4 linked regions of the Homo sapiens genome follow. The protein of the gene in region 1 interacts with the protein of each later gene in a pairwise test. Each region holds a gene or a part of one and is shown in the gene's direction. Other genes may lie near its edges.

Region 1 (7,020 bases):
GAAATTAAGGAGACACTGTGGCACCGATTTTGAGCTTTGTGGATGTACCGCCCAGCGATCAGATCAGCCTAACGTATGCACACAATTGAGCTGACATCTGCCATCTCATTAACTAAGAGAAATCCCTAACCTTTGTTTGCTTAAGCCTTCACTGCATAGGACCTCAGCCTCTTGCAATTCGAGGAAACTTTGGCAGTAATTGTTCTAAGAACATGGAAAACAGCTGTGTTTTGTTCTTTCTTTTCTGTTCTCTACTAATTGGGGGTTAGTGCTTAAGCTGAAAGATAGATAAATCGACTTCCTAAGCGTTTGCATGAGCAGTTAACTTGATGGGATTTCATTGTGTTCATTTCTAGTCTTCCCCAGTCCGCAAATTAACAGTGCTCTTGGCCCTTCCGGTGCCTTTCTGTAGCCTTTACTACTGTCCTGCTCGCTCGGCGTTTCTTGCACGTCACTGTTGTGCTTCCTCCTCCTCCTCTTTGATTGTTGAAGGTAGTGGCAGCTGGATTCCTGGCAGGGGTTGGGTCATCTCTGGTTCCTTCTAGCTTAGGGAATCTGTTTCGGTGGCTCAGAGAAGGATCTGTTGCCAATCAGCCGATGCCAGGTCTCCGGTGCTGGGGATGGTTACTAGGCAGGAGAAACACCAGTCAGAAAACCCTGGACTTTCAGAACTGTGCATCAGGCGTCCTGGCAACCTGTTGGGCAGGACTGTCAGGTGGAAAGCGGGCTCGTGGGGTTCGCCCCTTTCTGTCGGCTTCACACATGATCTCAGCGGACCTTGCGTGTCTGCACGGCATTCTCATTTCCTGGTAAGCTGTGTTTTGTTTTGTTTTTTAAAATTTCTTCTCTACCTGAGGACCCTCGCCTTTTGTTACTAGCTCTGGCCCATATCTGTTTTTTTGTGACGGTGGTTACTGTCTTTTCACATTCTGTAGGGGGACCTGTCGCAGTATGTAACATTGAACAAAATAGACAGCAAGTCCCGGGGTGGCCATCAAGATTCGAACATTTTCTGTTCACAATTTCTGCTGAAATTCATTCACCTCTTTTCATGATTTTTGGATAAAATTTATAGTAGGACTTATTTCTTAAATAATTACAACATTTTCTTATAGTGGTTGGTATTCCTGTGTGGTAACTGTGGTAAGAAAATGGCTTTCTGGTAGTAAGTGACTCCTTTTCATTTATCCACTCAGCACTCAACAAACATTTCAGTCCTACTATTTTCCTGGTTCTGGGTTCGATGCTAAGGAGACAAACAATATATCGTGTACATGCAGTGCTCATCTAGTGTCTGGTCGGTTTAGCCAGCGCACATATACATCAGCTCTTTTTTTCTTTTTGAGATGGAGTCTTGCTCTGTTGCCCAGGCTGGAGTGCAGTGGTGCGATCTTGGCTCACTGCAGCCTCCTCCTCCCAGGTTCAAGCAATTCACCTGTCTCAGCCACCCAAGTAGCTGGGATTATAGGCATGTGTCACCACACCTGGCTACATTTTTTTTTGTTTTTTTGTTTTTGTTTTTGTTTTTTTGTTTTTTAGATGGAGTCTCGCACTGTCGCCCAGGCTGGAGTGCAGTGGCGCGATCTTGGCTCACTGCAACCTCCGCCTCCTGGGTTCAAGCGATTCACCTGTCTCAGCCACCCAAGTAGCTGGGATTAGAGGTGCCCGCCACCACATCTGGCTAATTTTTTGTATTTTAGTAGAGACGGGGTTTCATCATGTTGTCCAGTCTGGTCTCGAACTCCTGAGCTCAGGCAGTCCACCCGCCTCAGCCTCCCGAAGTACTAGGATTATAGGGATGAGCCAATGCGCCCAGCCTTTTTTGTATTTTTAATAGAGACAGGGTTTCACCATGTTGGCCAGGCTGATCTTGAACTCCTGACCTCAAGTGATCTGCCCACCTCGGCTTCCCAAAGTGCTGAGATTACAGGGGTGAGCCACCTTGCCTGGCCATATCAGCTCTTCGTAAGTACCTTTTATTCCTTGACTTTTAGTATAACTGACTGTAGCTCTCCTGCTTACCAGCCACGTTATGGCAGGCAAGTTATCTAACCTCTCTGTGACCCAGTTGCCTTATCTGTAACATAAGGAAAATTACTGAATCTATTTTAAAGCACTGTCAGGAGGATTAAATGAGGAAAACACTTAGAATAGTGCCTGGCACTGCGTAAACACTCAGTAAATGTTAACTGTCATCATCATGTTATTGTTACAGAAAGAGTTGCAGTATTCTGGAAAAATCACTCACTCATTTAAATAGATTTTTTTTTTTTTTTTGAGATGAAGTCTCGTTCTGTTGCCCAGGCTGGAGTGCAGTGGCATGATCTTGGCTCACTGCAAGCTCTGCCTCCCGGGTTCATGCCATTCTCCTGCCTCAACCTCCTGAGTAGCTAGGACTACAGGTGCCCGCCACCACACCTAGCTAATTTTTTGTATTTTTAGTAGAGATGGGGTTTCGCCATGTTAGCCAGGATGGTCTCGATCTCCTGAACTCATGATCCGCCCGCCTTGGCCTCCCAAAGTGCTGGGATTACAGATGTGAGCCACCACGCCCGGCCTAAATAGAATTTAATTTCCAGAAGGAGTTTACTAATCCACCTCTCAAAACCCTACTATTGACAGGGCGCAGTGGCTCATGCCTGTATTCCCAGCACTTTGGGAGGCCGAGGTGGGCGAAGGTCAGGAGTTCAAGACCAGCCTGGCCAACATGGTGAAACCGCATCCCTAATAACAATTTTAAAAACTCTCTTGGTGTGGTGGTGGGCACCTGTAGTCCCAGCTACTTGGGAGGTTGAGGTGGGAGGACTGCTTGAACCTGGGAGGTGGAGATTGCAGTGAGTCGAGATCACGCCACTGCACTCCAGCCTGGGCAAAAGAATGAGACTCCATCTCAAACAAACAAAACCCTGTCATCAGGATCATAGTTTGTGAGTAACAGCCTCCACCCTAACACACACTTGCTTTATCAATATCAAAATGTTTTTGAGGCTGGGCACAGTGGTTCATGCCTGTAAGCCCAGCACTTTCAGAGGCCGAAGGGGGTGGATCACTTGAGGTCAGGAGTTCGAGACCAGCCTGGCCAACATGGCAAAACCCTGTCTTTACTTTATGCAAAAATTAGCTGGGTGTGGTGGCAGGCACCCGTCATCCCAGCTACTCCGGAGGCTGAGGCAGGAGGATTGCTTGAACCAGGGAGGCAGAGGTTGCGGTGAGCTGAGATCGCACCATTGCACTCCAGCCTGGGCGACGAGAGCGAAACTCTGTCTCAAAAAAAAAAAAAGTTTTTGAACAATATAAAGCCCTATAGACTGGTTACAGAAGAAGGGTAGCATTTGTTACAGATGTAGTCTATACATGTTGTTTTCCTTATAAATGACATGATTTGACTTTAGAAAAGTCATTACTCAAACGTGATTTAACATCTGTGATGGCCGAGGAGCTGTGCTCTGTACTAGGAATTTACATTGAACAAAAGCTCTTATGGAGCTAAATGGTCTGTTGGGAAGGACAGATGCTGAACAATAGTAACAATAAAACGAGATGTGTTCTGTCTTTGGGAAGGTACAGTGTCAGCAAATCAGTCGTATGGGGCTTTATCTCCTATCTTTTCACTCAATGTGGGAATATTTAGAGCTGCCCGCAGGCCTTCACTTGCTGGTGTACAGTTTCCTGGGGCCGTACACCAGGTAGTTTTGCTCATGTTTCATGCTCAGTGTGGTTCTGTGAGGGAGCCTGATCTGGACGCTTGCAGGCCAGGCTTTCCTTAGACCTCACATCAACTTGAAGGTAATTTGAGTCTGCCATCTGCTCTCCGCAAACTTCAACTTACAAAAAGCAGGCCTGTTTTTACTAACCCAGAGGACATTTGCCATATGGCAAGTTAGGCAAGAGATGTTGGCGCTGGTTAAGGAGATTTGAAAAGGATTTTCTGATCAAAAGGAAACTAAGCAACCCCTTTTGGCCAAAAATTATAATTGACCTTGGTAATGGTTACCAGGGAAGGCATTTGGATTCAATTAGAATGCGTCATGAAGCATGGAGAGCTTCAGGGCTATCCTGTTTAAAATGTCTAAGCCAAATAAAATTTGGAAGTGGAGTTTGTTCAAATCCTCAAGGAAATTACCATTTGGATTTTTAGAAAGCCTTGAATATTACAATGGAATCATTAGGCCAGGATCTAAGAAAAGTGGCTGGGTCTTTCAGATACCTGGCTGAAGACAGTAAAGATTATAATAAAAATTGGAAATAAATGGATATTTATGTTTTTGATGCTGAACATTTGGCAGGCCACCATCTAGGAATTGTTAAGTTATTATGACATTAGGATGTTTGGGAATGGCTGGTGACTCTTTCTCTAGGTAGCATATATCTCTCTGGGTTTACGGTTTCAAACATGAGATATATTGAAATATATTTAGGTCACTCGTATAGCTACTGAAAGATACTTCTAATTTATAACATATACAACTTGGTTTTTTAGGCATTCTCATTTTATATGGAAAATGCTTTGAAGTTTAAACTTCTTAACCTTTTTTTTTTCTCCTTAGGAAAATAAAGCAACCAACACAGACCATTTAACCACGGTACTCTACCTCCAGCTTGCTATTTGTTCAAGTTTGCAGAACTTGGAGAAAACAATTTTCTGCCTGCAGAAACTGATTTCTTTGCATCCTTTTAATCCTTGGAACTGGGGCAAATTGGCAGAGGCTTACCTGAATCTGGGGCCAGCTCTTTCAGCAGCACTTGCGTCATCTCAGAAACAGCACAGTTTCACCTCAAGTGACAAAACTATCAAATCCTTCTTTCCACACTCAGGAAAAGACTGTCTTTTGTGTTTTCCTGAAACCTTGCCTGAGAGCTCTTTATTTTCTGTGGAAGCGAATAGCAGTAATAGCCAGAAAAATGAGAAAGCTCTGACAAATATCCAAAACTGTATGGCAGAAAAGAGAGAAACAGTGTTGATAGAGACTCAGCTGAAAGCATGTGCCTCTTTTATACGAACCAGGTAAGCTGAGAGTCACTTAAGCAACGCTTGGTAATCAGCTCAGAGTAAAGGCTTTATTTTCTAATTTTAAGCTTCAAAAAGTTCTAGGCTAGACATTTGGTATATATTTTTGAAATTTTCCTATGGTTGTGTTGAACGTTTGTCATTCTAGTGTGTAATACTTGGAAACAAAACTACATTTGTTTAAGAATACAACCTGTGTTAGCTGGTGTGGTAGCACATACCTGTAATCCCAGCATTTTGGGAGGCTGAGGCAGGTGGATCGTTTGAGCTCACGAATTTGAGACCAGCCTGAGCAACATGGTGAAATCCCATTTCTACAAAAATTTTTTTTTGAAAAGTTAACTATGCGGGCCGGGCGCGGTGGCTCACGCCTGTAATCCCAGCACTTTGGGAGGGTGAGGTGGGTGGATCACAAGGTCAGAAGATCGAGACCAGCCTGGCCAACATGGTGAAACCCTGTCTCTACTAAAATACAAAAAATTAGCTGGGCATGGTGGCACGTGCCTGTAGTCCCAGCTACTCAGGAGGCTGAGGCAGGGGAATCGCTGAACCCGGGAGGCGGAGGTTGCAGTGAGCTGAGATCGTGCCACTGCACTCCAGCCTGGCGACAGGGCAAGACTCCGTCTCAAAAAAAAAAAAAAGAGTTGACCAGGCATGGTGGTGCGTGCCTGTAGTCCCAGTTACTCAGGAGGCTGAGATGGAATGATTGCTTGAGCCTGGGAGGCCAAGGCTGCAGTGAGCTGAGATCACACCACAGCACTCCAGCCTAGGCAACAGAATGAAACTCTCAGAAACAAAAAGGAATATAACCTGTGTCATTGTCCAAGATGGAATGTTAAGATTAGAAAACATTAAAAAATTAGGAAAATAAAAATGTATAAAACACTGAAAAAGGGAGAAGACATATTTTAAAGAAGGAATTTTCTGTTCGTATATTCCACAGAAATCTACTAAAGAAGAAAATTAGCTCTTGTATTTGAATTGCTGATAATGGGAGTAGATGATGCTTAATTCATTCTACAGAGAATTCCCATGGTTTGTGCCTAGGGATACCAAGTACTTTTTATCTTTAAAGTATGAGTTTGAGGGAAGGGTAGGGAGAATACACTTGACCAGTTCTATAAATGATGAGAGAAGAAGCAGACTCTCTCATGTTTCAAATGGTACCAAAGAATATACAGATTTTTTAACTCAGGAGGATTCAAGAAATATTAACAGTGAGGCTTACTGAGAAGTGGTATCTATTTGGCAAATTTTATTTTATTATTATTATTTTTTTTTTGAGACGGAGTTGCTCTTATTGCCCAGGCTGGAGTGCAGTGGTGTGATCTCCGCTCACTGCAACGTCTGTCTCCAGGTTCAAGCAATTCCCCTGCCTCAGCCTCCTGAGTAGCTGGGATTACAGCTGTGCACCACCACACCCGGCTAATTTTTGTATTTTTAGTAGAGACAGGGTTTCACCATGTTGGCCAGGCTGGTCTCGAACTCCTGACCTCAGGTGATCCACCCGCCTCGGCTTCCCAGAGTGCTGGGATTACAGGAGTGAGCTACCGTTCCCAGCTATTTGGCAAATTTTAAAATGTATTCAGTGGATGCTTGTTTAGATTGACCATGTCACTAATTCAGAGGCACATTGAATGACAACCGTGTGCCAGACATGTGCTTGGTGCTAGGATCACAAAGATCATTTAAAAAGCAGTCCCTTATGCCCCTCACTCACTCAGAGAAATGGTATGTCTAGCCTGTAACTGCCAGCACAGGTGCTAAATAGTATATCAGTGCTGTGACCAACGTCAGGGAGCTGTTGGCGTGGCCAAAAGAAGGAAGCCTTTACAGAGGGGATGATGCCTCTGCTGAATGGTCCCTGTAGGAACCCTTGTCAGTTGACTGAGTGCTAGATGCTTTGTATACATTATTTCATTTTAATCCTCATGACTCTGGGATACCTATTGGGATCCCACTAGATGGATCAGGAAACTATTAAAATCATTCCCAAAGTGGTGCAACTGTGA
Region 2 (7,938 bases), on another chromosome or scaffold:
CTACAGTGAGATATCACTTCACACCTACTAGGATGGCTACTATGAAAAAAAAAACACAAAACATAAGTGTTAGCAAGCATGTGGAAAAACTGGAACCCTTGTACACTGTAATGTAAAATGGTTCAGCAGCTATGGAAAATGGTATGATGGGTCTTCAAAAAATTAAAAATAGACCTACCGTATGATCCAGCAATTCACTTCCGCTTATATATTCAAAAGAATTGAAATTGGGATCTCAAAGACATAAAACACACTCTCATGTTCATTGCAGCATTATCACAATAGCCAAGATATGGAAACAACCCAAATGTCTATTGATGGATGAATGGATAAAGTGTGGTATATACATACAATGGGATATTATTCAGCCTTTAAAAAGAAGGAAATTCTGCCATATGTGACAACATGGATGAACCCAGAGGACATTATGCTAAGTGAAATAAGCCACTCACTGAAGGCCAAAGGTGAAGTATCTAAAATAGTCAAACTGATAGAAACAGTAGAATGGTGGTTGCCAGGGCCAAAGGTAGAAGGATATGGGGAGGTGCTGTTCAATGGGTATAAAGTTTCAGTTATATAAGACGAATAAGGTCTAGAAATCTGCTGTACACCATTGTGCCTATGGTTAACAATACCCTATTGTGCACTTAAAAATTTAAGAGAGATCGGCCGGGCACCGTGGCTCACGCCTGTAATCCCAGCACTTTGGGAGGCCGAGGCGGGTGGATCACGAGGTCAGGAGATCGAGACCATCCTGGGTAACGGTGAAACCCTGTCTCTACTAAAAATACAAAAAATTAGCCGGGTGTGGTGGCGGGCGCCTGTAGTCCCAGCTACTCGGGAGGCTGAGGCAGGAGAATGGCGTGAACCTGGGAGACGGAGCTGGCAGTGAGCCGAGGTCGCACCACTGCACTTTAGCCTGGGCGACAGAGCAAGACTCCGTCTCAAAAAAAAAAAAAAAAAGAAATTTAAGAGAGATCTTGCGTCAGGTGTTCTCACCACAAAAAAACCTTTTTTTTTTTTTTTTTTTTTTTTTTAAGACAGAGTCTTGCTCTGTCGCCCAGGCTGGAATGCAGTGGCGTGATCTCAGCTCACTGCACATGCCGCTCCCGGGTTCACGCCGTTCTCCTGCCTCAGCCTCCCGAGTAGCTGGGACTACAGGCGCCAGCCACCATGCCCGGCTAATTTTTTGTATTTTTAGTAGACATGGGGTTTCACCGTGTTAGCTAGGATGGTCTCGATCTCCTGACCTCGTGATCCACCCGCCTCGGCCTCCCAAAGTGCTGGGATTACAGGCGTGAGCCACCGTGCCCGGCCCACAATAAAAAAAATTAAATGGACCAAGTAATAATTCATTGAGGATAATAACAACAGAAGAAACGTGGTAGAGGCAAAGAGTAGTAGATGGGGAAAATTCAGGAGGCTTCCAGATGATTCTGCTACCACCTAGTTTTGTAACTTTAAGAGAGTTTCTTAAATTCCCCATCATTTCCTTTTTTGTGAAATGACTAAATCTGGATAATCTCTATGCTGTCTTTAGCTCCAGTAGTGTCTGAAGTTACATATGAAACTATATTTATACAACAATGCCCCATGCCTTCCAATCTGTTTGCTTCTAAATCCATTTCACAATTATTCTCTAACAAGGTCTATTTTTCTCTTTGAATTTTATTCTTTTTTAGCCACTATTCTGCATTCCTCCATAATTCTATGCCATTCTTTTGCCAGTCTATCCAATCAGTGTACTTTCTTAGCTGTCTCCTTAGTCCCCTGAATATATTTTCTCAATTTGAGCTATAGATAAGAACTCTACAGTTATCAAGATGGACTCTGATCATATCTAAAGGGTTTGCTTCAAGATTCAACTTCAACATGTTTTCCTAAGCATGCCTGCTTCTGCTCTTGATCTCTTTCTTCAGTTCTTCATTTAATAACTATTTATTTTAGTGCTCCAGCAGTAAGCAAGACAGACATGGACCCTGGTTATGTTGTTCCAACTTTTCGGCTGCTTTTAGTATTTTCCTTATATTTGAATTGTGGAATTCTCAGGAGTAAAAATATCCACAGAGCCAGGCAGGTAATGAGAACGAGTAAAGCAGGCCATAGACCTGGTAGAGACTGAGCAAGAAGGTCAAGATGGCTTGTTTGCCAGATGAACTAGAACTCTAGATTTTAAAGTGAACTCTGATTTACTGATTTTCGCAGGGAAGGCTAAACATTTCTTTTATGAATACTCCACATCATATACCTGTACCAATATTCCTAATACATGGGTACCTGAAACATTTTCTCCAGTTTTCCATGCCTAGTTTCTTTACACTCTCACTTCATTCAATGCTTTATTAATATTTATGCCACTTAACTTTTTCAGTCGGTGTCCTTTATTTACTCTAATCTTCTATTTCTAGTCAATGCAAGACATAAAGGTAAGGAAGGGCAAGATTCAAAATTGAGATTTTTGGCCGGGCGCAGTGGCTCACGCCTGTAATCCCAAGATTTTGGGAGGCCGAGGTGGGTGGATCACGAGGTCAGGAGTTCGAGACCAGCCTGACCAACATGGTGAAACCCCATCCCTACTAAAAATACAAAAATTAGCAGGGCATGGTGGCGCGCCCTTAATCCCAGCTACTCAGGAGGCTGAGGCAGGAGAATCGCTTGAATCTGGGAGGCAGAGGTTGCAGTGACCTGAGATCTCGCCACTGCACTCCAGCCTGGGCCGCAGAGCAAGAAAGACTCCGTCTCAAAAAAAAAAAAAAAAAAAAAATTGAGATTTTTGGCTGGGTGCGGTGGCTCACGCCTGTAATCCTAGCAATTTAGGAGGCAGACGCGGGTGGATCACCTGAGGCCGGCAGTTCCAGACCATCCTGACCAACATGGAGAAACCCTGTCTCTACTAAAAATACAAAATTAGCCGGGCATGGTGGCGCATGTCTGTAATCCCAGCTACTTGGGAGGCTGAGGCAGGAGAATCGCTTGAACCTGGGAGGTGGTGGTTGCAGTGAGCCGAGATCGAGCCATTGCACTCCAGCCTGGGCATGAGTGAAACTCAGTCTCAAAAAAAAAAAAAAAATTGAGATTTTTGAGTGAAAATGACTTATGTCCATGTTAACATATGACTGAAAACAATTCGATGCTCCAAGGGCCGACCCTGAGACTATCTAGCTGTAAAAGATGACTCCTAGTTTGGGCCAGGACGAACAGAATGAAAATCAGCTCGGACTGAAATGAGAAAAAGTAGTTGTGCTGGGAGGACAGATACAGAAAAAGCCAGCAGCAAAGTTAACTGAGAAACTTCTTTCTCCCACAGCCGTGCAGTAGCTATGACACGCCATATTCACCCCTCTTTGAGTAACTGCTGCTCTTACTAGTGTTGCTACTTTATTACTGGAGGTACCTAATTACTAAATTGCTGTATCCTCAAGACAGCATCCAATCCCTCGTAAATCCCAGCTTTTCTTCATGCCGCCACGGAAACGGCGTCCCATGCAGAACTGATTCTGGCTCTCCTTAGACCCTCCTCAGACTCCTTTGGCGGGAAACTAATCTTACAAAGGAGGCTTCCTCTTTCCTTTTCCAGTGGCATTCCAAGCTTCCTTTGGAGTGCCCTCCCTCCTGATTTACAAATTGGCCTGACGTTATCGGAGTACAGGCTTTTTCCTGGTGGTTTCTGGCCTAACAGGAGACAGATTAGTAAGTACCAGGATCTCTAATAGGTCAACTTTCATGATCTCTGCTAAATTCTCAGCTGTTTAGACTTACAATTTTTAACAGCTAAAAGGAAAGACAAATGCTATCTAAAACTGTCCCATCAGCCCATTTACAGGGAGCACCTCCCCCATACCGCCCTAAAATCCTTTAAAAAATGGCTTTAGTCATTTTATCTGCCTTGCATTTAAGCGAATTCAGTTTAAGTGGCTTCAGTTCTGAATTCCTGGATTATATCGAAATGTTGCAGATGGCGGTGTGTGGGCTTTGAGCTCGTAAATTTTTTGTGTGGTACTAATTCAAGACGATTGAGAGCAGGTTGGGATCATTTTAAAAAGAGTTCTCGGCAGGGTGTGGTGACTCAAGCCTGTAATCCCAGCACTTTGGGAGGCCGAGGCGGGCGGATCGCTTAAGGTCAGGAGTTCGAGACTAGCCTGGCCAACATGGTGAAAACCCGTCTCTACTAAAAATACAAAAATTAGCCGGGCGTGGTGGCGTGCACCTGTAATTCCAGCTACTCGGGAGGCTGAGGCAGGAGAATCGCTTGAACCGGGAGGCAGAGGTTGCAGTGAGCTGAGATCGCGCCATTGCACTCCCGCCTGGGCGGCAAGAGCAAAACTCTGTCTCATTAAAAAAAAAAAAAAAAAAAAAAAAAAAAAAAAAAGGGTTCTCTAGTAGGAAGTCCCGAGTTGTATCCATGTTTTTCCGGGCGTCCCCCGGAGGGACAGGTTGCGGGTGACCTTTTCAAGTGTGGAGGAAAGGGAAGCTGCTTTTGTCTTCAGGAATGATGCAGGTCTCGACTCAAGCCTGACGGGCCCAAACCTCCCTGGAGCTGGCTGACGACTCTGCCCGAGTTCCTGAAGAGGGGTCCCGGGGGTCCCGGAGCGGAAGTGGGAGCGCGTGGGCGTGGGCTCCTCGGCTGCCTGGGGCTCCAGACTTGTGCTGCGTGCGGCTCCGGAGCTCTGTTCTCGCTCCTGAGCAGCTGCTAGGTTTCCCAAGCGACTGTCTCAACCGCCCGGCCGCCTCCCCCGGGCAGCCAGAGCTTCACATCTACCTCCAGCCGGGACCCGCCCCCGAGCCGCGGGGCCCACGCCCAGAGCCCTCCGCCGTCCCCAGCGCAGTGCAGCAGAGCGCGATCCAGTCTGGGGCCGGGCCGCGCTTCCGCGCACGCGCGGAGAAACCCGCGCCCTCCGAGGGGGGAGGGGACAGAGGGGGCGTCACGGGGGCAGGAGAAGAAGGAGGAGGAGGCCCGCGTCGCCTCCGGCGGGGCTCGCGCTCGCCCCGCGCTCGCCCTCCGCCTCGCCCGAGCCCCGGGAGGGTGAAACGCTTTCTCCCAGCATGCAGCGGGAGGAGGGATTTAACACCAAGATGGCGGACGGCCCGGATGAGTACGATACCGAAGCGGGCTGTGTGCCCCTTCTCCACCCAGAGGTGAGGAACCGTGCTGAGTGGATTCCTTGCCCTGCGGCCCTCCAGCCTTTCTTCCCCGGACTCGCCGAGGGCGGCGGCCGACGTGTGTGGGGTAGTGGGACGTGCCGAAGTTGGGGAGGGTGGGGAGGCGAATCCAGGCCTGAGCGCGGCTGCGAGCGGATAACGGGGGAGGAGATAGCGGGGCGGGCCCGACCGGGGCGGGCTCTGGGACGCAGTCCCTGGCTGTGCCTGGAGGACAGAGGTGGAGGTGTTGATGGTTCTGCTGTGTCGCCGCGCTGCGTTTGAGAGCAGAGGCGGAGGGGCCTGGTGTGGTTTTTGAACCGCAGCTTAGACCCTAGTCTTGCTCCAAGCCTCTTGGGGCCAGGTGGAAGCGCGTCTGGTTTTGATTTCTTTTTCCTTCGCCAGGGTGAATGACGGTATCTATTGCTTCCTTTTAGTCCACTGTGAGGGGACAGTTTCATGGGCATAGTGATGTCCTTCCAGGTAATGCCATGGGTAGCACCTCGGGCACCTTGTGTCGGGCGTCCTTTTTTGAGCATTTGTCCTTAAGCGATTAAGAAGAGAGGTAAAAACTTTTGGGAATAGACTTACACTCACATTAGCTTGTCAAAGTACCGTTTTTCTAGGAGCTAGGGGTGGACAGTGCAACACGTTTCCCATCACAACATGAGTGTCTTCCCATGTAAGTAAACAGTGCCCCGCTCCACAGTCAGTCAGTCTGTGCTTGTTTACCTCCGAGTTTGTAGCTGAGCTAGTGCTAGTTAAGGCTTGGAAGCAATTCTTGATGCATTCTGATTTTTAGTGATCCACAGTGATGTCTGTATGCGGCAGCGGCACAGTTTGCTGAAGAACTCGGGTAGTTTTCATGAGGTTAAAAGATGACAGTCGTGTTGTAGGATGAACAAACATGGAAGTCTCTACCTGGTTACTTTGCAATGGAGTGATTCTGTTTTTTTCTGGATTTGGGTTTGTACCATGCCACTAGTTTTTGTTAAAAAGTGAATAATGACAACCATCCTTTTATGTTGCATGTTAACACTCAACCACCCTCTCATTCGTCACTTTGGTTTATCAAAAACACATGGGACAGTTCCTTCGGAATATATACCTGTGCCAGTCTCAGTAGAAAAGGCTACTCTGGGTTTCTGATAAACAGAACTATACAGTAAGACTAAACACTTGTCTGACCAAAGTGGTAACATTTTCAGAACTGGCATTGTAGACATCTCTTTTGGTTCACTTAGGCCCTAACATACGTCAGGAAATAGACAAAGTAGTTTTCAGATGTTGCCTTGAAAATGTTGCTAAGTGATTTCTATTCATCTGTTCCTGTGAAAGTATTCGTGAAAGTATTTCAAACACTTAAGTGTTTATCCAGTTTATTTTTTTGAGACGGGGTTTCTCCCTGTCCCCCAGGCAGGAGTGCACTGACACGATGACAGCTCACTGCAGCCTCTACCTCCAGGGCTCAAGTGATCCTCTCCCCTCAGCCTCCTGAGTAGCTGTGACCACAGGCTCGCGCCACCATACCCGGCTGATTTTTTTATTATTTGTAGAAGAAGAGGTCTCCCTATGTTGTCTAGGCTGGTCTTGAACTCTTGAACTCAAGTGGTCCTCTCACCTTAGCTACTTAAAGTGCTGGGATTACAGGCATGAGCCACCATGCCAGGCCTATCTTACGTATTTTAGCATACTGTTCTTCATAAACCTTTGCTTTGTAATATAGTACTGTTGTTTGCTACTTTAAGAATAATTTTAACTGGCAACAAATCCAGATTATTTGGTGTAGTAGAATGGCCAGTATAGGCTTGAAATTTAGCTACCGATCTTCAGGTTGCCATTCGATAGATAGGATATTACTAGAAAGTCAACCTCCTCATCATTGATAGTGGGAATTGGCATACATAATATATACCGTTCCTTTTTACCCAAGAAGCACAAGGTCTGATTATTTTAATACTTTGGATGGACCTTAAGCTTGTACTACATGGCTGAGGTCTTTCTGCATTTTCTGTGGTTAGTGTGTGCAGCTGGTGCAGACCTGGGGTAGTTCTGCTGCCTCCTAGCAGTGTGTTCTTGGGCAAGCTATGAATACGTCTCTGAGTTCTAGTTTCATCATTTATAATGGATAAAAATAATAGTTAATAAGCTATAGCGAGGATTAACTGAGATAATATGTTTTTGTTGTTAAAATAAGCAGTGTTTTCAGTCTCCTTTGGGAAGAAACCCATTCTCTGTCTTGGTAAGTAATGAAATAATAGTACTTTTAACCTCTTTTTGGAGAGAACATAGACTTTGGGTCAGACAGACTTGGATTCTAATTCTGGAAATTCGGTAACTAGCTAAGTGACCTGAGACAAGTGCTTAATTTCTTTAAGCTTCAGTTGTAATCAGAAAATGGAGATCCTGGCTGGGCTCGGAGGCTCACACCTGTAGTCCCAGCACTTTGGGAAGCCGAGGTGAGAGAATCACTTGAGCCCAGGAGTTCGAGACCATCCTGGGCAACATGGCAAAACTCTGTGTCTACAGAAAATACAAAAATTAGCTGAGCATGGTGGTACACGCCTGTAGTCCCAGCTAATCGGATGCTGAGGTGGGAGGATTGCTTGAGCCTGGAAGGTTGAGGCTGCAGTGAGCCATGATCGAGCAGCTGTACTCCATCCTGGGTGACAGAGCAAGATTATGTCTCAAAAAAAAAAAAAAAAGAAAAGAAAAGAAAATGGAGATGCTGCCTAGTTTACTTGGCTGTAAGGGATTAAGTGAGGCTATATGTTGAGGGTCAAGAACTGGCACATTGTAGGT
Region 3 (7,440 bases), on another chromosome or scaffold:
TAAAAAATAGACCAAAAAAAAATACCCACACAAAAACATGTCTAGATTTTCATTGTGTATTCATCAGTCCATTATTTTGAATTACAACTGAATGAAGAGATAGACAGATAGATGGAATCTAGGTATCATAGGTAACACTGAGTGAATATAGGGCATAGTCCCTATTTTAAGGAGCCCAAAGATGGAAGCATAGGCTATAGCCCCATCTACTAGCTGGCCGATAATATTCATAAACTCATAGGCAAGGATGTGAATGTATGGTTCAGAACACACATAAGAAAACCGGGGGATTTGAGGTAAATGAGCTACTTAATCCTTTCTAAAAACACACCTTTTTTCTTATTTAATTTGAAAGTAAATACATCTTTCATTTTCATTTTTTATTTTTTTCTATATCAGACCACTGCTGGAGACATCTTTTTCTTAATTTAAAAACACAGGCAAAAATGTGTATAGAACATAAGCATATTGAAGCTATAATGAAAACAAGGGGATGGTTAATATATAATTCAGTATAGTAGTGGCTAACTGGGTGTGATGATGGAGGAGACCACAGGGAACTTTTCCATTCCTTCAGCTGGGCAGCAAGTATGGGAATTCCTTTTATTATTTTTCTTTTAAACTGGACACATAGATTTTTATATCCTTTTTAATACGTATTTTACAATGAAAATGTTTTTAAAAATTATCTTTTGGGCCGGGTACAGTGGATCACGCCTGTAAGCCCAACACTTTGGGAGGCCAAGGTGGAGGGGTCACTACGTCAAGAGATCGAGACCATCCTGGCCGACATGGTGAAACCCTGTCTCTATTAAAAATACAGAAATTAGCCGGGCATGGTGGTGGGCGCCTGTAGTCCCAGCTACTCATGAGGCTGAGGCAGGAGAATCGCTTGAACCCAGGAGGCAGAGGTTGCAGTGAGCCAAGATCATGCCACTGCACTCCAGCCTGGCAACAGAGTGAGATTCCACTCAAAAAAAAAAAAAAAATTCTCTTTTGAGCCCTGCCACAATTTATATTCATAAACTCTTGCCCCAGTAGATGGTGCTGTGTCTTGGGAAGCTCTAAATGAAGGAGTGCCCTAGCTTATTGGGTTGCAGCTTGGAGTCCATGGAAGCTCGTATGTGAATCTCGAGGAAATCAATTTCAACTTTTACCCTCTCAATGGGATTTTGTATGAAACCATGCTCGAGTGTGTGTGTGTGTGTGTGTGTGTGTGTGTGTGTGGTGTCTTTAGACTGTAATATCTAAGATTAACTTGGGTGATCACTAAAACTCCAGAAGTGCTTTGCCACATTATAACCAGGCTTGAAGTCTTGAAGCCTCTACATCTTTTTTTTTTTGAGACGGAGTCTAGCTCTGTCACCCAGGCTGGAGTGCAGTGACATGATCTCAGCTCACTGCAAGCTCTACCTCCCGGGTTCACGCCATTCTCCTGCCTCAGCCTCCCTAGTAGCTGGGACTACAGGCACCCGCCACCAGGCCCGGCTAATTTTTTGTATTTTTAGTAGAGACGGGGTTTCACCGTGTTAACCAGGATGGTCTTGATCTCTTGACCTCGTGATCCGCCTGCCTCAGCCTCCTAAAATGCTGGGATTACAGGCGTGAGCCACCGTGCCCAGCCTGAAGCCTCTACACCTTCTATAAGAATCTCAAAAATTGTTAAAGACTGTGAAAGCCTGTAATCCCAGCACTTTGGGAGGCCAAGGCAGGCGGATCATGAGGTCAAGATTTTGAGACCATCCTGGCCAACACCCTGTCTCTACTAAAAATACAGTGACACCCTGTCTGACACCCCGTCTCTACTAAAAATACAGAAATTAGCTGGGCATGGTGGCACGCACCTGCAGTCCCAGCTACTCGGGAGGCTGGGGCAGGAGAATCACTTGAACCCGAGTGGCAGAGGTTGCAGTGAGCCAAGATGAGATCATGCCACTGCACTCCAGCCTGGGCAGCTGAGCAAGACTCTATCTCAAAAAAAAAAAAAAAAAAAAAAAAAAAAAAAGACCGTGAAAGGACTGGGTAGCTATCTAAGAAAAATATTAACAGCAACACTGGCAAGAAATTGCCATAGCCCCTGACTACCGTTCTTGGATTCTTCAGCTGTGTCCACCAATGTTGTAAACATGGAAGTATTTAGTCATTCCACAAATATTTATTGAGTACCTACAGAGTCCCAGGAACTCTGATGTCCCAGGTGTTGTGTTTGGAAAATTCAGGAAAATAGAGAGTGGTCTCTTTCCACCTGCTGCTCTATGCAGCATGGGAGACAGACAGGTAAACAGGACATTACAATAAAATGCAATGTAGAAACCCAGACACAGTGCTTTGGAAGCATAGAAAATGTATCTGTTAACTCTGCCAGAGGGGTTAGGAAGGGATTAAGAAGGAGATTTAAAGGATGACTAGGAGTTCCTAGGCAAATAGGAGGAGGAAACAGCCCATGCAAATAGCTCAGCAAGGCTATGGCCAGTAGTGTGGTTTGACTAAAGCTCACAATCTGTGAGAATGTGGGGAGAGAATCAGAACATAATCAGAGGCCTGATTATCAGGTGCCTGGCCAAGTTGAGGAGTTTGTACTTTATCCTACAAGGGAGATAAACTTTATCTCCCTTGCTTTATCCGACCAGGAGAAGCAATGAAAGACTTTAATCAGAGGAGTGACAGGATTAGGTTTGCATTTCAGAAGGATTTCTTTTTTTTCTTTACTTTCTTTTTTTTTTTTTTTTTGAGACGAAGTCTCACTCTGTTGCTCAGGCTGGAGTGCAGTGGTGCAATCTTGGCTCACTGCAACCTCCATCTCCTGGGTTCAAGCAATTCTCTTGCCTCAGCCTCCCGAGTAGCTGGGATTACAGGCATTCACTACCACACCCAGCTAATTTCTGTATTTTTAGTAGAGATGGGGTTTCACCATGTTGGCCAGGCTGGTCTTGAACTCCTGATCTCAAGTGATCCACCCACCTCATCCTCCCAAAGTGATGGGATTACAGGCGTGAGCTACCACACCAGGCTCAGAAGGATCTTTGACACAGATATAAAGGATGATGGGCTAGAGAAAGCGAGAGCGGAGGCTTAGAACTGCTTAGGGAGCTTTTCAAATAATTCAGGTGAAAGCTACTGAGGAGTTAATTGTGGGTAGCAGCAGGGCAGAGCTGTTTTCTCTATTTCTAGTTAGGACTTTGGCCCATCCTTCCAGAATTTCAGTGGCAGTGCTTTCAGGGTTCAGGTGAGTGAAGGCACTGTAAAGGTCCTGATGGAATTTGAGGCCAGCCTGGGCAACATAGTGAGACCCCGTCTCAATTTATATTAAAACATAAATTAATTAGAAAAATAAAAAATAAAGGTCCTGAGGGCCAGGCAAAATGCCTCAGATAAAGAAATCATCATGAACGGCACCAAGTGGTTCATTCATTCATTCATACATTTATGTGTTACTAATTCAGCCAGAGGTTTAAAGCACATCTTTTTCATTAGGAAGGTGAGCCTTAAAGGTGAATACTCAAGGGGCCTGAATACTTAAGGAGGGGAAGGGGATGCTATATGCTTTCACTTCAAGTCAGCGGGAAGAATGGCACACTCAAAGTGGGGAGGTCAGCCTGGCATGGTGGCACCTGTAGTCCCAGCTACTCCAGAGGCTGAGGCAGAGGGATCGCTTGAGCCCAGAGTGTCGAGGCTCCAGTGAACTATGACCTTGTTTCTTAAAAAAACAGCTGGGAGTTTATATTCTAGGGATAGGGTGACAAACGAACAACTTCCAAAATGCACAAGATGTATGGGGAACAATTAGTTTGGCTGGAATTTGCGTTGGGGGGAGATCAGAAGCTGTTGAGAAATAAGGCTATAGTTGGTGAAGATATCCGACTCGTAAAAAGGCAATGGGATTTAGAAATTCCTGGGATTCTGTTTCTTTGACTCGGGGTTAGGAAGACAGGGAAGTAACAAGTGCCTTTTTTTTTTTTTTTAATAGTTAAGGGACCTGAGACTGGGGGTGGGGGGCAATGTCATCTGCCCCAGGCCACACAAGTGTAAGATCAGGCATGCATGTCTGCCAAGGTTTCAGTTCAATGTCCGTGCCCCTCTTTTGCTCTCTTCCCAAGGTACAGAGGCGGAACGGCGCGGTGCCCTCGGGTCCCAAGAGAGAAGGGCGCCAAGCTCAGAGCCAGTTCTGTGGAAGGGTAGGGGAAGGCCTGACCCCGGGGGCAATGTGGTGGCGGGACAGTCGTATACACCTTCAGGAGAACCACCTCAGGCTGACAGGCAGTGCGGAGGGCCCCAAGAGCGCCTTAGGGTTGCCTGCTCCAGAGAGCGGGACTCCTGCGCTGCAGCCGGGATACTGGGCGCCGCCGTGCGCCCACCCCCTGCCAGTGGTTCGCTCCGAACACCCCTCGTCGGGCGGCGGGTACTGCGGCCCGCCCCACTTCCGGTTGTTGTCCGGCCCTATATCCGGTGTCCGCCCGCCCTCGGCTCCTCCGCCGTGATGCTGTCCCGATCCCGCTGTGTGTCTCGGGCGTTCAGCCGCTCGCTCTCCGCCTTCCAGAAGGTACGGTCTGGCCGAGCCGGGGCCCCGACGGGTGAGGAGTCTGTTGGCGGGCAGAGAGGCGGCCTGGAAGGCAGGGGCGCGGCGCGCCGGCCGGGCCGGGCACCAAGGGCACTGGGACGCGGAGGCCGCGCGGGCTGGGCGGCCCGGGGCCGTGGTTGCCCTCGGGACCGTTTTGCGGAGCCCAGCGGCCCCCTGCCTTCTCCAGGCAGCCTGCGGGGAACGTTTCCTGCTGTACCCCACCCTCCGCGCGGGAGCTGGGGAGCCGCGCCCGTCCAGATACTTGACTCAGAGTTAGGGAGGAGGCGCGGCGGAGTCCTCCGGCGGGATTCGGCGCCCGTCTCGTCTTGCTCTGTTAAAATCAGTGGGTATTAATGAGTCCCGTTGGGAAGTTGAGATAGTTTGGCAGGCCCAGCGTGTTGATTGGGTCTGCCAGCACGGTGTGTTGCATTTACCTTCGGAGTTACGAGATTCACCTGTCACCACCACTGGGACAGCTTTGAGCGTGTACTTAAAAGAAAAAGCTGGGTTTTTTTTTCATCTTGGGTGACGTCGATAATGTCTTCTTTCTCAACAGGGGAACTGCCCTCTAGGGAGACGTTCCCTGCCTGGTAAGTTCTGCCCTTACCGTCACCTAAAATGCTCTCCTCCTGGGCAGAGCAGTATGTGAGGAACTCGGGGGTGCCTGTGTTTCTCATAATATTTAAAGACAGTTTGGTTCAGAGAGTAGTGAGACGCAATGCTACATAATCACGAGCTATCGCTTATTCATTTAGCTCGTAGTTGAGTTTCTACTGTGTTAGGCACTGTGCTAGACGCTAGGGATACAGGAGTGGATACAGAAGTGTACAGTTCTTGCCCTCGTGGAGCTCCTAGGCTAGTTGGATAGTGTCAGTTGCTAAACAAGCCAACAAAGGCAAATTTTTGTAACTGCTGAGAAGGAAACGAGGGTGGACAGAAGAGCCCTTTTTGAGGAGGTGACTTAAAAGTTATGGCCATGGCCGGGCGCGGTGGCTGACGCCTGTAATCCCAGCACTCTGGGAGGCTGAGGCGGGCGGATCACGAGGTCAGGAGATCGAGACCATCCTGGTTAACACGGTGAAACCCCATCTCTACTAAAAAATACAAAAAATTAGCCGGGCGTGGTGGCAGGCGCCTGTAGTCCCAGCTCCTCGGGAGGCTGAGGCACGAGAATGGCGTGAAGCCGGGAGGCGGAGCTTGCAGTGAGCCGAGTTCGCGCCACTGCACTCCAGCCTGGGCGACAGAGCGAGACTCCATCTCAAAAAAAAAAAAAAAAAAAAGTTATGGCTAGCAGAATGTGACGGAGCTAACCCAGTGAAGCCCAGGAGAAAGAGAATGGCATTCACAAAGACCCTGAGGAAGAAAAGAGGTTGGCAGAACTTAAGAGCTGGAAAAAAGGTGATTTGGCCGGAGTATTTTGGTTAAGGGAGAGAGTGGCAAGAGATAGAAGATGGTATAGAGACTGAAGGAGTTTAGATTTTATCCTAGCAGTTAAAAAGAAAAAAGTGTCATCCATAGCTTTTTTTCTGTTATATGCCTAGCCTAAGTATTTGTTGAATGAGTTGACCTTGTTGTGGGCTTTCTTTGTGCCAAGCATTTATATGAGTGCTTTCTGTGAATTTTTTAGTTAATCATCTCAAAACAGTAAAAAGTATTTTCTCTATTTTACAAATGCATAACCCAAGACAAGAGAGCTTAAAAGCCTTGGCCATGGTCACCCACCCAGCTGTTGATAAGCCAGGTCTACCTGACCCATCCTGAACTCTTAACCCACCATGTTCTCATTTACTCATGGACTCAACAGATCATTTATTGAGTGCTTACTATATGCCAGCCACTGTTCTAGGTAACAGGGGTATAGATAGACTCTAGCCTCGAGATTTTATGGGCTAGCTGGAGAGAGAGAGCAAATATACATTTATGCTCCGACAAGGGCATAAATTTTGGTTACTACGAGAGAGGAATTAAAGGGTGTGATGAGAGGGTGGGATGATGTAGACCAGCTTGGGAAGGTTGGGAATGTCAGTAAAGGCTTCCCTGAAGAAGTGACATTTAACTGAGACCTGAATATAAAAGAGCCAAGAAAATGTATTCCAGGCAAAGGGAATTGCTTGTGCAAAGGTTTTCAGACAGGAAAGGACTTGACCAGTGATAGACATGGGAAGAAGCCTGTCTGGCAGGAAAGATAGAGTGGGCTGGACGGTACAGGATCGCGTAAAGTGTGGACTTTATCCTGAGAGTTATGAGAACATAAAGCCCCTAGCACAATGTCGGCTTGTAGTGGACTCTCAATAACAAACATGTTTTTCAAGTGGGAACCCTGAACAATGTCAGTAAACATTTTCTCCACTTCATAGGTGGGCAGGACAATGGAAAGAGCCTTGCACTTGGGGATTTGCATTTGGGCTCAGGGATTCACCTTGGGCTAGTCGCTTAACCTCCAAAAGTCCTACTTATATGAAATGGGAATAATGGCAGATGGTCGTTCCACTTCAGAGAGTTGTGAGACTGTAAAATCAAAATGAGGTCATTATGGGAAAGCTTTTTATAAACCCTAAAGCACTGTACAAATGAAATTTGCTGTAGGATGAACTCTGAATTGGACTCCAGGTTCCCAAAATCAGTGTGAGCCGCCATCTATTCTAGTTCAAAAACATACTATGCTTAGAATTTGCACTGCATAGTCATTGGCTGCTGGACATAAAGGTGACTGGCTTACCTATCTTGGGATGCTTGTGAGGAGGTGGGCATAAGAGAGGGCTAGCTCTCATTTGGTGTGTCCTGAGCCCATGGTTCAGAAAGAGTTGTTAATCTGAAAGAAAAAAGACATAAGAAAGAATTCAGAAGAGGCAGCTGTAGTTACTAGTCATCAGTTGGGGAAA
Region 4 (7,509 bases), on another chromosome or scaffold:
TTGTATCACCACAGCTCTCTGTTAGCATAGATAATTGAGGGGTGCTTGTGAACACTCGTGACTGAAAATGCCACCATTGTTGAGGAAATTAGGTTCTGCGAAATGGCTTCATGGTTTGGCTCCACATTAAGGATGAGGTGTACAAGAATGAAAAGGGAAATAATTTCTGAATATATTTTCTTCATTGCTGTGACTTATTACTTACTGCATATTGGCCCTTTGGCTTTTATACTATAAAAAAACATAAGTTCGGTTATATTCTGCTGACCAAAGGAAATCATGACATAAACTGCTAGTTGTACTGTTTCTTTCCTGTTTTGCAACCAATATAAAATACTACATTTCTCTACATTAAAAATATACATAGTGAATTTAAATGCTTCCTCAGTTTAATAACCACTATAAAAATAGCCAGGAAAAGCCACTGGTGGTAATGCCACTATTTTTAACCATGAACTGTATTCTCAAAATACCATAACTAGATAATTGGGACATAGGAGAGTTGTCTTTCTGTGATTTTGAATTCTAGGGGTTTGATGTGAGAATGAAATTTAGGCCGATTTTATTGTTTTAATGGGAAGTTCATCTGCATGATCTATTAACAATGAAATGCAAGAGGCCATTAAAGGTGAAAAAGTAACTTCCTACTATTTTTCATGGGTGTTTTCAAAGTAAGATAAAGATTTATTTTCTGACTTTGTATAGTGACCACAGCCAGGGCCAGAGAAAAGTGATCTCCCTTGAGTTGCTTGCAGTCTGCACTCTGACTTCCTCCTCTTGGCCCAGTTGAGTCCAGACATTTCAACAGCTTGACTAAGCCTCATCACCAGTTAGCTGCCAAATTCAGTGGCTGCCAATACCACTAGTAGCTTTTTAAATACACCTGTTGCCAGCACTATGTTTGAGTCAAGAAGGCTAGACCTTTCTGGTCTACCCCAGTGGCTAAGCTCTCTTTCAAAGGAGAATTATTTTTAGTATTACTTCATCATTTTTCCTTAAGAAAATGTTTTTCTAGCAAGCTTCTCTCCTTACAGAGAAATTGCATTTACACTGATCCCAGTACATAACATCTCGTCTGGGTTAGCCTAGGGAGAAAGAGTAGTTTCAATAATTGATATTACCTGTGGGGCCAGCAAGATATATGAATAACAAAACATAAAAACTTGGTGTAACTGAGAGGTTTCAAGTGTAATAATCAAAAACCACTTACAGCAAAGTTAATCTGATAGTTAATGGTATGTATTGCGTGGTAATTAGGTATAAACACTAAGTACTTCATATAAAGGACTATAATTAATGTGTTTCATGAAGCCAAACAAGCATTTTTGGAGCAAGCTTGGTGGGGAGATGAATAGAAAAGCAGTTAAAGCTAGATTCTGTTCTAAAGATCCTGGACCACAGATCCTCTTTGGCCAGGTTTTTCTGCGTTTCCATTAGCATTTGCTCACAGCCAGGAGGCCAGTGGCCAGGAACAACTTTCCCTATCCACCACAAAGCTGATAAAAAGCTAAAGAGAAAAAGTGTGGTGGATTCAGTTCTGACAACCTTCCAATCTTTGAAACACTGTATGACTATTTAGCTGTAGCTTAGCAGTACTTTAAGGTGAAGAAATAGGACATATCAGAGTATTTCAATACTTTGGGCACTATATAGCCACTGATAAGGATTCTTCCTCAACAGTCTTTTCAGCTAGTAGGACTTCATGAGCTCATTTTGATCCATTTGACTATGAGTCAGTGTTCTCAAGGTGTATGTGTTTTGCTTTTACCAATGGAATATTTGGTCATAGATAAATCTGTAGTTTATTAAAAAACAAAAAACACCAAACTGGCTGGGCACAGTGGCTCACACCACTTTGGGAGGCTGAGGTGGGCAGACCATTCGAGTTCATGAGTTCGAGGCCAGCCTGGCCAACATGGTGAAACCCTGTCTGCACTAAAAATACAAACATTAGCCAGGTGTGGCGGCACATGCCTGTAATCCCAGCTACTCAAGAGGTTGAGGCAGGAGAATCACTTGAACCTGGGAGGTGGAAGTTGCAGTGAGCTGAGATCACGCCACTGCACTCCAGCCTGGGTGACAGAGCGAGAGGCTGTCTCCAAAAAAACAAAAAACAAAAAACAAAAAAAAAACCCAAAACAAACAGAAAAAAACCTTACACATACGTCTGGTCTGAGGTTGACATGTCTTTACCCTAAGGATATCTGGTTATTTTTTTCCTGCAATGTGTGCCTGTGTATGACGCCAGTGACACTGTTTCTATTGACTGACAGATTTGATTTGGTGTGACCTGATAAAATGATCTGGTTCAAATGCCAATTTCATTGGCTTTGTTCTTGCCTCCTTTCTTACCTGACATTCAATACATCAGCAAATCTTGTTTGCTCTTAGAAATGGAATCTCACCATTTTTACCACCTGCACTCTGGTCTGTCATCAATGTATTTTACCTGGATCATTACAATAGTCTTCTAACATCTAGTTGCTCTTAGGCTCAATCTGTTCTCCACAGTGCAGCTCTTCTCTCCCAACCCAAATCAGATTTGGTCACTCCTCCAATGGCTCTCCTTTTCATTCAGAATAAATTTTAAAGGTTACAAGATTCTACAACTATACCCTTCTTGTACCCTACTCCCTCTTCTGATTTAGTCAGCTGCTTTCCCACCGCTCACTGAATTCTAGCCTACACTGACCTCCTGCCTATTTCTCAAACATGCCAAGCCCACTTCCACTTAGGGTCTTTGCATTTGCTGATCCTTCTGTGTAAAATATTCTAACCCTGGGTAGCCAAATGGCTAATTTCTCACTTCCTTAGTTCTCTGCTCAAATGTCAGAGAGGCATTCCCAGACAAACATATTTAAAATAGCATCCTCCCTCCCCATGTCTCCCTACCCTGCTTTATTTTTCTATGACTCACCATCTGGCATAGTAGGTATTTATTGGCTTTTTTTTTTTTTTGGCCTTTCCGACTACAATATAAGCTCTATGACAGCAGGCACTGTATATCTCGGTGAGCTGTTGTATCCTCATTCCTTAGAACATTGCCTAGCCCATTTATGAATATTTGTTGAGCCACATGAATCAAGGCCTCCTTTTGAGATCGTGAACGTTTTCATTTATTTATTTATTTTTTTGAGACGGATTTTCGCTCTTTCACCCACGCTGGAGTGAAGTAACGCGATCTCTGCTCACTGCAACCTCCTCCCCGCCTCGGGTTCAAGCGATTCTTTTGCCTCAGCCTCCCCAGTAGCTGGGATTATAGACTCCTGCCACCACGCTCGGCTAGTTTTTGTATTTTTAGTAGAGACAGGGTTTCGCCATGTTGGCCAGGCTGGTCTCGAACTCCTGACCTCAGGTGATCACCCCCCCCCCCACTTGGCCTCCCAAAATGCTAGGCTTACAGCCATGAGCCACTGCGCCCGGCCATTTTTCTTTTTAAAAATAAACTTTCCAGATCTTAATTTCATGGCTTTAACATTTTAAATGTTTGAGGTATAATCTACTCATTCTTGGCTCTAATCTTTTTGTCAGGGAAGTTAAACTAGTGAGAGACCTATGAACAACAGCAACAATTTAATGAGCACGTCTTATATGCCAAGCTTTGTGGTTAAGCACTTTGCTTTATCTCACTTAATTCTAACTATGGTCCTAGAGGTTGGTATTACAACTAATCTCCTTTTACAGAGAGTTACTGAGACTTGGAGAGGTTAAATAACTTGCAGCCAGGTCACAAAATTAATCACTGAGTTGAGACGACAATTAAGGTATGGCCGACTCCATACTGCCTCCTAGCCGTCTCCTCGAGTAGTTCATGCCCTGTTAACTTAAGTCGTGAAGCTGCTGGTGTCAAAGCATTCCTTTTGCAGTTTCGTGTACTAGGGTTCTGGGTGATTTTGCACATATTTATTTCAAAGATCCTCCGTACCACACCAGGGAGTTTACCTTCTGGAATGTTGTTGAAGCCCCTGTCCTCTATGCTGGGACACTTTCATGCAACGTTTGCTTAGCCAGACTCAGGAAAACGCCTTTTTTTTTTTTTCTCATTTCCCTGCACTCCACATTAAACACAGAGGTAGTTTAAATCACCTGGTAAAAGAAGATGGGATCACAAACGCTGTGGTCCAGAAGGGAACATCAGTAAGTCGGTTCACCGCTTGCAAGTGGGGGCACTTACATATAAATGAAGAAAAAACAAGTTCTTAAAAAGCAGCCGACCCTGGGTTCTTAAAAAGCAGCCGGGGAAGAGGGCTCAGGGGACCGGACGCGGTGCCCCGCACCACGCTAGGCCTGACAACCGGAAGAGAGGGGCCAGGAGGGGCTCCTCCAGAGCGACTTCGGCTCCAGTAGGGAAACCGCCGAGGCTCCCCCAGCTCCAGGGAGCGCCGGGGACGCAGGCGGGAAGCCTCCATCGGGCAGCCGGCCTGGACTCACGACGCGGGGTGGGGCCGGCGCCCGCCCCGCCCCTCTCCTCGGGGATGCCGGGATGTTTACACTCCTGACAGCGGCGGCAGCAGGAGGAGGATCGGGAGTCGCGGGAGGATGGGCCGCCGCTAGGCTCGCACTCCGGACGCGCCTCGCAGTGCGCAGGGTGGGTGCCCCGCGCCTGCAGCGTCCGCCGGGGCGGCGCGGCGGGAGGTGGCCGACAGGCTCCGGGCCTCGCAGCCTCAGCCCCCGGCCCAGCGCGCTTTCCGACGGCGGCGCCGCGCCGAGCCACCCGCCCGCCCAAGGTCTCTCGCGGGCGGGAGAACGGAAAACTCCCAACTTCCTGGTGAGTCGCTGCCCAGGGTTCAGGCGCCCGGACCGGGCAGCTCCTGCCGGGAGGGGCCGCCTGCGGGAGTCGGGCCGGGAGAGGGAGGTCGGGACCGCGCGGGGCGGCCTCCGGGATACCCTCGCTCGGGGTAGGTGGGGCGGGGCGCGCTGCGCTCGAGGCGGATGGGGGTTTCGGTCTTGTTCGTTGGCAGCGGTGGGAGGGGGCGGCAGGAAACTTCATACCTGGCCCCGGCTCTAGAGGCCCGAGGCCGCCAAGGGCGCCGCGGTAACTAAGAAACTCCGTGGCCACGGCGGCGGCGGCAACAGGTCTTTGGTTTCGGGACCCGAGGAACTTAAGCGAAGTCCCGCCTTCCGGCGGATGCTCATTGGCGACGTCGGTTATTTATCTCTCGCGGATTGGTGAAGTCCGTCTGTCAGGATTCGGCAGCAGCCCGACTTAGGAAAGTGAAGTGCGCTGGGAGAGAGTGGGTGGTGGGAGCCGGCAGATAGGGGAGAATCCGAAGTGGCTTCAGAAGTACAGGGAGCGTGAGAGGTCTGTCGGAGAATGAACTTGGGAGAGACTCGGGATTACAAAATGTCGGAGAGAGGGATTGCGAGGCAATAGCGAACATTGCTGGTGATGGTGGCAATGGAAAAGAAATTGAAAACTGAGGCCAAAGTCAGAGAAGGGTAGCCAAAGGAAAACAGAGAAAAGTGACAAGACCGTATGACCGCAGAACAGTGTAAGGAAGCGAGCACAACCTAGAGGATGCTGCCTTGAGAGCTAAAGAACTTCTGTTGCCTCTGTTACACTGTAGGCCTTCACTCCTAAAACCGCAGCATCCTCTATTTAGTCTTGCACTGGGAGCGTACTGGGGTCGCGGAGAGATGATGTATCGTGTTCTCACCTTGCTGTAGTCCTCACTGGGGAGAAATGCTAAAAAATATACTTAGTTTACAGTAAGATACATGTTACTGTCCTTGCGCAATTCTGGTGACTGAACTGAAAATCAGAAATACACAGAAATAAAATGATTATTCTCCTTTGAGGTTACTGAGCTCAAGGATGCAATTGAAAACACCACATTTCCATAGTTTGTAGAGCCTAATGTACCCATCATAATGGGAACCACTGTTTCTAGTTCCTCCTCCAAGGAATTTACAGTTTCAAGGCTATGCACACTCCCTCCAGGCGACAGCAGTATGTCTTGTCAGGTTGCATTAGAGAATTAAAGTACAGAGTATGTGTATTATAAATATGTTCTGTTCAGGACCTTGAGCTGCTGGTGGTGTGGTCGAAGAATGGCATAGTCCTTGCACTCAAAAGCTACAGTATGTTTGGGACAACCGGTCAAACCCTGAAAACGGTGAACAGTAAAACAGGAGATACAGTTAACCCTCTAATGCTTTGTGGCAACTCTTGTTGAATGGCCGCTGAGTATTCTTGGTTTGTAACACTTGGTGATGGCCAAGTGCTCTTGAAACAGCTAACTTAAAATCTCAGCAGTTATTTTATTTCCAGAGGAAGGAATTCTCTCTCCCTCGGCGAGATCCAGTCCACAGCTTGCTTCACTCTTAGAACAGCGGCATCCTCTATTTGGTCTCGCACGGGGAACTTGCTGGGGTAGGGGAGAGGTGTTAGAGCTTTGAAAAAGCTTTGCCTCTCGGAGGAGTCAAAGGGGCAGTAACTGTATGGGGTGAGAGGAAGGCCTGCGAAATAAAAAGGCAAAGGAACCGTTTGAGGAGGCTAGTTGCCTTCTCGGGGCCGGTGTGTGTGCGGGGGTAGTGTTAAGGGGGAGGAAGGAGCCCGGGAGCCCGGAGGACCCTCCCGGAGGTGCGGGCCTGAAATTCCGCTGGGTGCCGGGAGGCTCCGCCCTCCGGAGTACTGACGGCCTTCGCAGCCAATGCGCAGCCAGGACCTCGCGTTCGGGAGGGCGGGTACTTCCTACTCCAGCCCTGGGCTCGGAGAAGGCCGCGTTAGTTCTTTTTCTAGGGATGTCTGCGGAAGGGGCGCCAGGCTGAGGGCCAGCCTGGAGAAAGAAAGAAAGGAAGGAAGGAAGGAAGGAGGAGGGGGGCTTCAGTTTTCCCTGAGCCATCCTAGGTGTCCCGTTTCGTGATTCAGCTGCACCTAGAACTTAACTACTACTGAAAGTTTATAGTAGATTAGAAGCGAAGTTGGTCAGCAGACTAAATATAGTCCATGTGACTGAGGCGGGTTTTACTCTGAAATTACCTGAAAATGAAAACCACTAAATGTCAGAATCTAAATCGTTAGGCGTTTTCACAACTTCTTGGGAATCTTTCCATGGTTAAAAATCTTACCAATTTAACAAGACTAACTTTATTTCTAAGCGTACAGACTCATTTTATAGTCTGAACTAGTATTTAGGTTTATTTATTTAGATAATACATGTAGCACCCACCATTGCTTTCCCCCTTTCATATTTTCCTGTCTGGACAATTTCGAGTTCATTTCCATCCCAGTAAAACAGCACTTACCCAAAGAATGAGGAAAGCACATATGGTATGATGGCAGTGTACTAGTAGAGGAGGGGAGATTTGATGCCTCTATAGCTAACATACCTGATTAATAAATTTAAAAAAAAATTGCATCGTAATGACCAGAAGTCCAGTGCAGTTACAGTTTGTGTAAATAAGTACTTAATCTCATAAGGACCTCATGCCCCAAATCTTTCCTGGTGCTTGCAGTTGATAGTTTTGGGCTCTGACTTACTGTAAACATTTAAGTATTCTTTTTTT

The links.
Region 2: the proteins of ZHX1-C8orf76 (region 1) and ZDHHC17 interact in binary tests that used the Homo sapiens proteins (3 or more experiments, as listed by UniProt).
Region 3: the proteins of ZHX1-C8orf76 (region 1) and DLST interact in binary tests that used the Homo sapiens proteins (3 or more experiments, as listed by UniProt).
Region 4: the proteins of ZHX1-C8orf76 (region 1) and NEK7 interact in binary tests that used the Homo sapiens proteins (3 or more experiments, as listed by UniProt).

The regions. Positions count from the first base shown.
Region 1 is NC_000008.11:123,229,285-123,236,304, reverse strand, and holds part of ZHX1-C8orf76 (zinc fingers and homeoboxes protein 1), read left to right. Parts: intron 1-4,547; coding exon 4,548-5,005; intron 5,006-7,020. Other genes in the region: uncharacterized protein C8orf76, read left to right, coding at 4,548-5,005.
Region 2 is NC_000012.12:76,759,194-76,767,131, forward strand, and holds the start of ZDHHC17 (palmitoyltransferase ZDHHC17), read left to right. Parts: upstream 1-4,921; 5' UTR 4,922-5,043; coding exon 5,044-5,136; intron 5,137-7,938. UniProt on the Homo sapiens protein: Palmitoyltransferase that catalyzes the addition of palmitate onto various protein substrates and is involved in a variety of cellular processes.
Region 3 is NC_000014.9:74,877,477-74,884,916, forward strand, and holds the start of DLST (dihydrolipoyllysine-residue succinyltransferase component of 2-oxoglutarate dehydrogenase complex, mitochondrial isoform 1 precursor), read left to right. Parts: upstream 1-4,439; 5' UTR 4,440-4,477; coding exon 4,478-4,540; intron 4,541-5,114; coding exon 5,115-5,148; intron 5,149-7,440. UniProt on the Homo sapiens protein: Dihydrolipoamide succinyltransferase (E2) component of the 2-oxoglutarate dehydrogenase complex. The 2-oxoglutarate dehydrogenase complex catalyzes the overall conversion of 2-oxoglutarate to succinyl-CoA and CO(2).
Region 4 is NC_000001.11:198,152,509-198,160,017, forward strand, and holds the start of NEK7 (serine/threonine-protein kinase Nek7), read left to right. Parts: upstream 1-4,489; 5' UTR 4,490-4,768; exon of another isoform or gene 4,769-4,898; intron 4,899-7,509. UniProt on the Homo sapiens protein: Protein kinase which plays an important role in mitotic cell cycle progression. Required for microtubule nucleation activity of the centrosome, robust mitotic spindle formation and cytokinesis.